Homo sapiens: one gene and its partner. The protein of the gene in region 1 interacts with the protein of each later gene in a pairwise test. Each region holds a gene or a part of one and is shown in the gene's direction. Other genes may lie near its edges.

Region 1 (3,807 bases):
TGGGTCAGCCAGCAGTGTGCCATTCATCCTGTCTCACGGCCGTCCCTTGCCCAGTGCCACAAGTGGGCAGGGCCTTGATGCTCTGTTGCGTGGGGCTTTGTAGGCCCCTCCGGCCCCAGCTCACAGCTGCTCCACCCTCTGTCTGTCTCTCTACCCTGCTCCCAGGCCAGCGTGACGTCCACGCCGGGAAGCCCCTCCACTGACCCAGGCCCATCTTCCCTCCTCCCCGCCCCTTGCCTGGCACAGCCCCCAGGGACAAGGACGCTGTGCAGGCGGCCTGCGCGCACGCGCACGTGCACACGCCCACCCCCACCCCTCACTCTTCTCGCTCTTTCTGCCATTTCTCAGCGGCGCACTCTGCAGCTGCCTCTCACCCTTTGTGCTCCGGTTTCCTCTTCTCTCCCTTTCTCTGCTGCCTGGGTCTCCGTTTCGGAATTTCCCCACCCCCTAACCATCTCCATCGTGGTTAGCGCTGTCTTCCTACGTCTGTCTTTGTCTCCTGCTCCCCCCTGCCTCTTCTCACTCTGTCTGTCACCCTTGGCAGACCCGGCCTTGGCTCCATCTGTGGAACACTCCCCCCTCCCCGCTCCTTTGCCCTTAGTGGTGCTGGTGGGGGGTAGAGGGCCTGCTGAGCTGACAACCCTAGCTGCTTGCTCTGTAATTGCCTGAGGAATGGTGAGAGATCAGAGACCCAGCAGCAGTGGGAGGAGAGGAGGGAGCGCCCCCTCCCAGCTGTTATATCTCGCAACCTTCTGGCTGCTTCCTGCCTGTCTCCGACTGCCCAGGGCGGTGGCAAGCTAGGTGGCAAATACTGGGAGACCAAAAAAGAAGTTGGATATGAGCCTGTGGGGAGATGGGATGGGGCTGGGATGGGGCAGGGAGCGGGGACCAGGGGTTTGGGGATATTGTATTTCCCCTGAGCGTACATGCCAAACACCATTCCAGGATTCTAGATTTGGAGGACAAATAGAGGAACTTGCGTGGCAGAAATTATCGACCTCCAGAGCACCCAAAAGCCTCTGACATGCAGGAGGGTCCTTCTTTGAGCTTTTCCTTGCTCCGGTTTCCTCCCCTCCCCCTCCTAAGACCAGTGCTCAGAGCTCCCAAGGCTGCTGTTTGATCATCTGCTCTCTGATCCGAGTCTCCTACTGCTCCTACAGGCCTTGAAGTTGAGGCCAGTGCTGCCTGGGGCCTCCCCTGATCCACTGGCTTTGTAGGGAGAGGCCGGGGTGGAACAGATCCACTGTTGCTCTTCCCTTCTGGGCCCAGGTCCAGCTCTTGCAGGCTGGGAATCACTCTTCTTACCCTCCAAGTCATCTCTTGGCCTCCAGGCCATGCACGCTGACCCACCCTGCTGCTTCTCCACCACCCTCTGCAGCAAGCTCTTGCCCAGAGTCCCCACGGGATCTGCCGCATTCACAGCTCTTCTTGGGTCACTCTGTTACACAAAACTGACAAGGCCCAGAGCCTTAGCACAGCATGGCTGACTTCTCTACCATCCTTTCGGTGTTCCTGCTGAGGCTCGGTGCCCGCTTTGATAAGGTCCTGGCTGGGCAGAGGGAGGATGCACAGTATGGATTTAATGAAGGCGTCTAGTCTGGGACTTCAGCCTCCAAGCTCTGTCACCTAACAACACCCTTTCTTGCCTTGCCTGCACTTTAACCACTTCCTGTTTGGAATTGAAGTGGTCTGGCCACTTGGGAGTCTGTTTCCTCTTGTCATTGTCAGAGGAGCCCCCTCTTTCAGACCCTTAGTCTTTGGCTCCCCTTACTTGTAGGTGAATATGGACATGGCCGGTGTGGCTTGGGTTTGGGGTGGACACATGCAGCAGTTGAGCTCTGAAGACTCAGACAAAGACCTAGAAATTGGGACTTTGAGACACACAAGAAGTGTTAGAAACACTGTCACGGAAAATGTCCCAGAGCTTGTCCTGACCCCTGTCCTGACCCTAACCTGGAGCATCTGGAAGGGAGGAGGCCTCAGTGGCCTCTCTTGACCCCCAGGGGGCTGAGGAGCAGCAGGGGGTTGTTTTCCTCCTTCCTCTCTTCTCCCACACCAGTTCTCAAGGGAAGGCTTCCTTCCCCATTCTTTCTCTCTTTTTTTTGAGATGGAGTTTCGCTCTTGTTGCCCAGGCTGGAGTGCAATGGTGCGATCTTGGCTCACTGCAACTTCCGCCTCCTGGGTTCAAGAGATTCTCCTGCCTCAGCCTCCCAAGTAGCTGGGATTACAGGAATGCACCACCACGCCAGGCTAACTTTTTTTTTTTTTTTGAGACAGAGTCTTGCTCTGTCACCCAGGCTGGAGTACAATGGCGCAATCTCCGCTCACCGCAACCTCTGCCTCCTGGGTTCAAGTGATTCTCCTGCCTCAGCCTCCTGAGTAGCTGGGATTACAGGCATGAGCCACCACGCCTGGCTTTTTTTTTTTTTTTTTTTTTTTTTTTTGTATTTTTAGTAGAGACAGGATTTCACCATGTTGGCCAGGCTGGTCTCAAACTGCTGACCTCATGATCCGCCTGCCTCAGCCTCCCAAAGTGCTGGGATTACAGGCGTGAGCCACCACGCCCAGCCCTAATTTTGTATTTTTACTAGAGACAGGGTTTCACCATGTTGGCCTGGCTGGTTTTGAACTCCTGACTTCAGGTGATCCACCCACCTCGGCCTCCCAAAGTGCTGGGATTACAGGCATGAGCCACTGTGCCTGGCCTTTTATTTTTATTTTTATTTATTTTTTTAGACAGAGTCTCACTCCATCACCCAGGCTGGGGGGCAGTGGCACGATCTTGGCTCACTGCAACCTCCGCCTCTCAGGCTCAAGTGATTCTCATGCCTCAGCCTCCCAAGTAGCTGGCATTACAGGCGCCCACCACCAAGGCTAATTTTTTTTCTTTTTGTATTTTTAGTAGAGACGGGGTTCCGCCATGTTGGCCAGGCTGGTCTCAAACTCCCAACCTCAAGAGATCCACCCACCTCAGCCTCCCAAACTACTGGGATTACAGGCGTGAGCCACCACGCCTGGCCCTTTCCCCATTCTTTCTTCATTTTCCTGAAACTATTTTGTGAAATGCTGCCATCTTGGGCCCCTTTCCTCCCTTCTCTATCCCACTTCCCAATCCCCCCATTAGCTTTTTAGGTCTGTACAGCACCCAGGCATCAGTTGGCTCTGAAAGCTATAGCAATGTGACTGCAAGAAGAATTCTTCTCTACATGTGTGTGCACACAGAGATAATAGATACAGGGATTCATCCCCACAGATACATAAAGACATACAAGAAGACACACGTAGCTAGCAGACTTGTGTGTTGATTCCCTCAGGCACACACACTAACACACCCACTCATGAGTGCAACCCCTCCCAGAGAAGACACACCACAGAAATACCAGCTCACATACAGCTCACTCCCTGCTTGCAGATCCACAACCACACACATGCCCACGGACACCTGCACATGCAGACACATACGGGGATGTGCATGCCATGCACAGGGGAGCTGATGGGGCAACAAGTTGGTGCTGGGAAGGCAGCTGGCAGGAAAGGTGCAGACAGAGAGTAGAGAGGGAATAAAAGGCAACCTAGAGGCCCAGCCAGGGCTATCTCTTCCAGATTTCTCCCTCCAAGGTGGGGAGGGGTGCGGATGGGGAGGGGAGGGCTGGAGAAGCCGGCCAGCTGGGGGCGGGGCTGAGGGCGGGGCCAAGAGCCCGGGCTTACCCAGATGTTAGTCACTAACGTCCTTCCGTTCTCTCGTCTCTCTTCCCCCACCCTTCCCTTCCCTTCTCCCCTCTCCCAGTGCCCCCACTCCCAACTCCC
Region 2 (3,807 bases), on another chromosome or scaffold:
CAAGCAGGCCCTGAGGGACTATAAGAAGGTTCAGATCCAGCTGGAGAATCTGGAGAGCAGTGTGCGGGACCGCTGCAAGAAGGAATTCACAGGTGTGGCTGAGAGAATGGGCCCCGCCCTCCAGAACTCTGCCCAAACCCACTCCCATCACACGGGATTGGTGCTTAACAGGTGCTTAACCTGGCCTCTTCTGCTTAACAGACCTCATGACTGAGATGACCGATCTCACCAGTGACCTCCTGGGCAGCGGCATCCCCTTCCTCGACTACAAGGTGTATGCGGAGAGGATCTTCTTCCCTGGGCACCGCGAGTCGCCCTTGCACCGGGACCTGGGTGTGCCTGAGAGCAGACGGCCCACTGTGGAGCAAGGGCTGGGGCAGCTCTCTAACCTGCTCAACAGCAAGCTCTTCCTCACCAAGGTACCCCCAGCTGCATCTTCCTGGCCTGCCCCTGGCCCTGCCCCTTCTCCAGGGCATGGTTTCTGAGCCCGCCCCTCTGTCCCCCTAAACCCCTTTTCCCATCCCTTCTCTTTGGCTGCAGTTCATCCACACGCTGGAGAGCCAGCGCACCTTTTCAGCTCGGGACCGTGCCTACGTGGCATCTCTGCTCACCGTGGCACTGCATGGGAAGCTTGAGTATTTCACTGACATCCTCCGCACTCTGCTCAGTGACCTGGTTGCCCAGTATGTGGCCAAGAACCCCAAGCTGATGCTGCGCAGGTCTGTGTGGCTGTTGGGGCTGGGTGGGCCCTGGACAGCTGGAGCTGGGGTGGGGCCTCGGGCTGGGGGGTCTGCAGGATAGAGAGGCCCGCAGCCCCACCTGCTGACCCTGGCACTCCCCTTTCCCATCATCTCAGGACAGAGACTGTGGTGGAGAAGCTGCTCACCAACTGGATGTCCATCTGTCTGTATACCTTCGTGAGGGTGAGGGGGCAGAGGTGGACAGGGCTCCTGTCCAGGGAGGGTCAGGCCCTCCAAACTTCTAAGCCCTCAGCCACCATGCAGCTCGGACACTTGTGCCAGAGCAGAGACTCCTGCTCAGCCTGTCCTCAGTCCCCTTAAGCCCATGTCCTGTCCCCTTCCCCAGTGTGCGTCATGTCCCATACACCTCTGCCACCTGCTGGGGGGCCCTAACTGCCTGTGCTCTCCTAGGACTCCGTAGGGGAGCCTCTGTACATGCTCTTTCGAGGGATTAAGCACCAAGTGGATAAGGGGCCAGTGGACAGTGTGACAGGCAAGGCCAAATACACCTTGAACGACAACCGCCTGCTCAGAGAGGATGTGGAGTACCGTCCCCTGGTGAGGGTGTGCAAGTGTGTGGCCTGCAGTCTGAGTGCGGTGAGGGCGAGGGTGGAGAGTGTGTGGGTGTGTGGGGTCTGGACACCAGCTTCTGATGTGGTACCTGGATGTAGAGCTGGGTTGACCTCTGGCTGGCTCCTGGAGAGAGCCCATCAGACTAGCTTAGCAGGATAGCAGTTTAGGGCAGACTTTGATGATAAGGCCTCTATGTGCCCCAGGCTAGGGATGGAACTAGGGTAGCCACAACCAGGGTTTGGGAGAAGCCAGCCCTACCTTAGACCATGGGCTTGAGCTGTGTCAGGGCCTGACCCTGTCTGCCTGGCCCTCCTACCAGGAATGCGGCCTTGCCCACCAAGCCAGCCTCACTCTGGCAGGCACTTCTCTCTGGGTTTGCTTTCCCCTTAGTTACGCACAAGGGTTCCTGTGGGAAACCCCCATTCAGGCCTGCTGAACCCCTCCCCTGTCGGATAGGTGGGAATATTTGCTCCCGATGGTGGGAATGCAGGCTTCCCGAAACTCCGTCAGCCTGACCCATTCAGCCAGGAACCTGGGGATCTGAGTGATGAGGGACTTGTGCTCACTCATTTTTTTCTGCCATTTACCCCATAGTGGTTTACAAGTGCACTGCGCTAGGTGCTGGGGTCACAATGGGGAGGAAGCTGCTGTCCCTGGGGAAGGCAGGCAGGTGAAGAGACGAGAATTAGGGATTGTGTGGTGCGTGGGGATTGGAGGCAGCAGTTTCTCATGAGTTGTCTCTGCCCTTGGCCTGTGTCTTGGTCATCCTGAGTGCACATGAACCCTGATGGCTCCTGTGTGTCCTGCACAGACCTTGAATGCACTATTGGCTGTGGGGCCTGGGGCAGGAGAGGCCCAGGGCGTGCCCGTGAAGGTCCTAGACTGTGACACCATCTCCCAGGCAAAGGAGAAGATGCTGGACCAGCTTTATAAAGGAGTGCCTCTCACCCAGCGGCCAGACCCTCGCACCCTTGATGTTGGTGAGGGCGTGGAGAGCCCCTGGGGACCTGAGCCACTGTTGGGCCTGGGCTGGCCCCGGACCAACTCTGCAGGGACAACTCATCACTCAGGGTGGGGAGGATGCTGGGAGGCAGGCAGAAGCTGGCTTTGGAACATCTTTCTTGGACAGCCTCTCATCTGGGGAGGGGGTCCCTGCTCTTGGTCTTTGGAGAGGTTGAGTAAGGCTGCCCCATGATGGAGGGGCTGGTGTCCCTGTGGAGGAGGAGATGGGCTCCACTATGGGAAGGGTATCTTCCAGCCCTGCACCCAGTTCTGCCTTGCCCTTGCAGAGTGGCGGTCTGGGGTGGCCGGGCACCTCATTCTTTCTGACGAGGATGTCACTTCTGAGGTCCAGGGTCTGTGGAGGCGCCTGAACACACTGCAGCATTACAAGGTAGGAGGAGTGGGAGCTGGAGGAGGGCATGGTGGGGTGGGACTGGTGGAGGGATCACCAGCTGTGCTCAGCAGGTCCCAGATGGAGCAACTGTGGCCCTCGTCCCCTGCCTCACCAAGCATGTGCTCCGGGAAAACCAGGATTATGTCCCTGGAGAGCGTGAGTACCGCTCCCATCACGGTCCTCTGCCCCTGCTGTGCCCAGCCCGGAGTCATGGGGAAGGTCCTCTGGGCCTCAGGGCAGGCTTGTGCCTATTTCCATTCGGCCCAGGAAATCCCTCAACCAGGTGCCCCCACCCCTGGGAGAGCTGGCAAGAAACAGGGGGCCTGGGGAGGTGGCACCTGGGGAGGGGTGACAGCTGTGGGCTCTTGGCACAGGGACCCCAATGCTGGAGGATGTAGATGAGGGGGGCATCCGGCCCTGGCACCTGGTGAAGCCAAGTGATGAGCCGGAGCCGCCCAGGCCTCGGAGGGGCAGCCTTCGGGGCGGGGAGCGTGAGCGCGCCAAGGCCATCCCTGAGATCTACCTGACCCGCCTGCTGTCCATGAAGGTGGGGTGGGGCTGCCAAGGTAGTGGGGCCTGGGCTGAGAGGGAGCATGGCCACTCGTGGGATTTGGGGGTGGTGTGGGGCTCGTGCAGGCACAGTGCCGGGGGGTGTCTGAGGCTGGGCTGCTGCTGAGGGCCCTTTGCTGACCACACCTCTCTGCTTCTTCCTTCCCACAGGGCACCCTGCAGAAGTTCGTGGATGACCTGTTCCAGGTGATTCTCAGCACCAGCCGCCCCGTGCCGCTCGCTGTGAAGTACTTCTTTGACCTGCTGGATGAGCAGGCCCAGCAGCATGGCATCTCCGACCAGGACACCATCCACATCTGGAAGACCAACAGGTGGGGTGGAGCTGGGTGGGCTCTAGGTGTGTGTGGGGGGTCTTCTCTTCTGCCTCCCCAGCACATTCATCGGCCATGCCTGCCCCACCCGCAGCTTGCCTCTGAGGTTCTGGATCAATATAATAAAAAACCCGCAGTTTGTGTTCGACGTGCAAACATCTGATAACATGGATGCGGTGCTCCTTGTCATTGCACAGACCTTCATGGACGCCTGCAC

The links.
Region 2: the proteins of L1CAM (region 1) and PLXNB1 interact in a two-hybrid assay, tested with the Homo sapiens proteins (one study listed by BioGRID).

The regions. Positions count from the first base shown.
Region 1 is NC_000023.11:153,875,925-153,879,731, reverse strand, and holds part of L1CAM (neural cell adhesion molecule L1 isoform 1 precursor), read left to right. Parts: intron 1-3,717; exon of another isoform or gene 3,718-3,787; 5' UTR 3,788-3,807. UniProt on the Homo sapiens protein: Neural cell adhesion molecule involved in the dynamics of cell adhesion and in the generation of transmembrane signals at tyrosine kinase receptors.
Region 2 is NC_000003.12:48,409,354-48,413,160, reverse strand, and holds part of PLXNB1 (plexin-B1 precursor), read left to right. Parts: coding exon 1-92; intron 93-201; coding exon 202-419; intron 420-540; coding exon 541-719; intron 720-856; coding exon 857-923; intron 924-1,151; coding exon 1,152-1,298; intron 1,299-2,124; coding exon 2,125-2,293; intron 2,294-2,602; coding exon 2,603-2,706; intron 2,707-2,777; coding exon of another isoform or gene 2,778-2,780; coding exon 2,781-2,865; intron 2,866-3,083; coding exon 3,084-3,256; intron 3,257-3,429; coding exon 3,430-3,590; intron 3,591-3,684; coding exon 3,685-3,807. UniProt on the Homo sapiens protein: Receptor for SEMA4D. Plays a role in GABAergic synapse development. Mediates SEMA4A- and SEMA4D-dependent inhibitory synapse development. Plays a role in RHOA activation and subsequent changes of the actin cytoskeleton.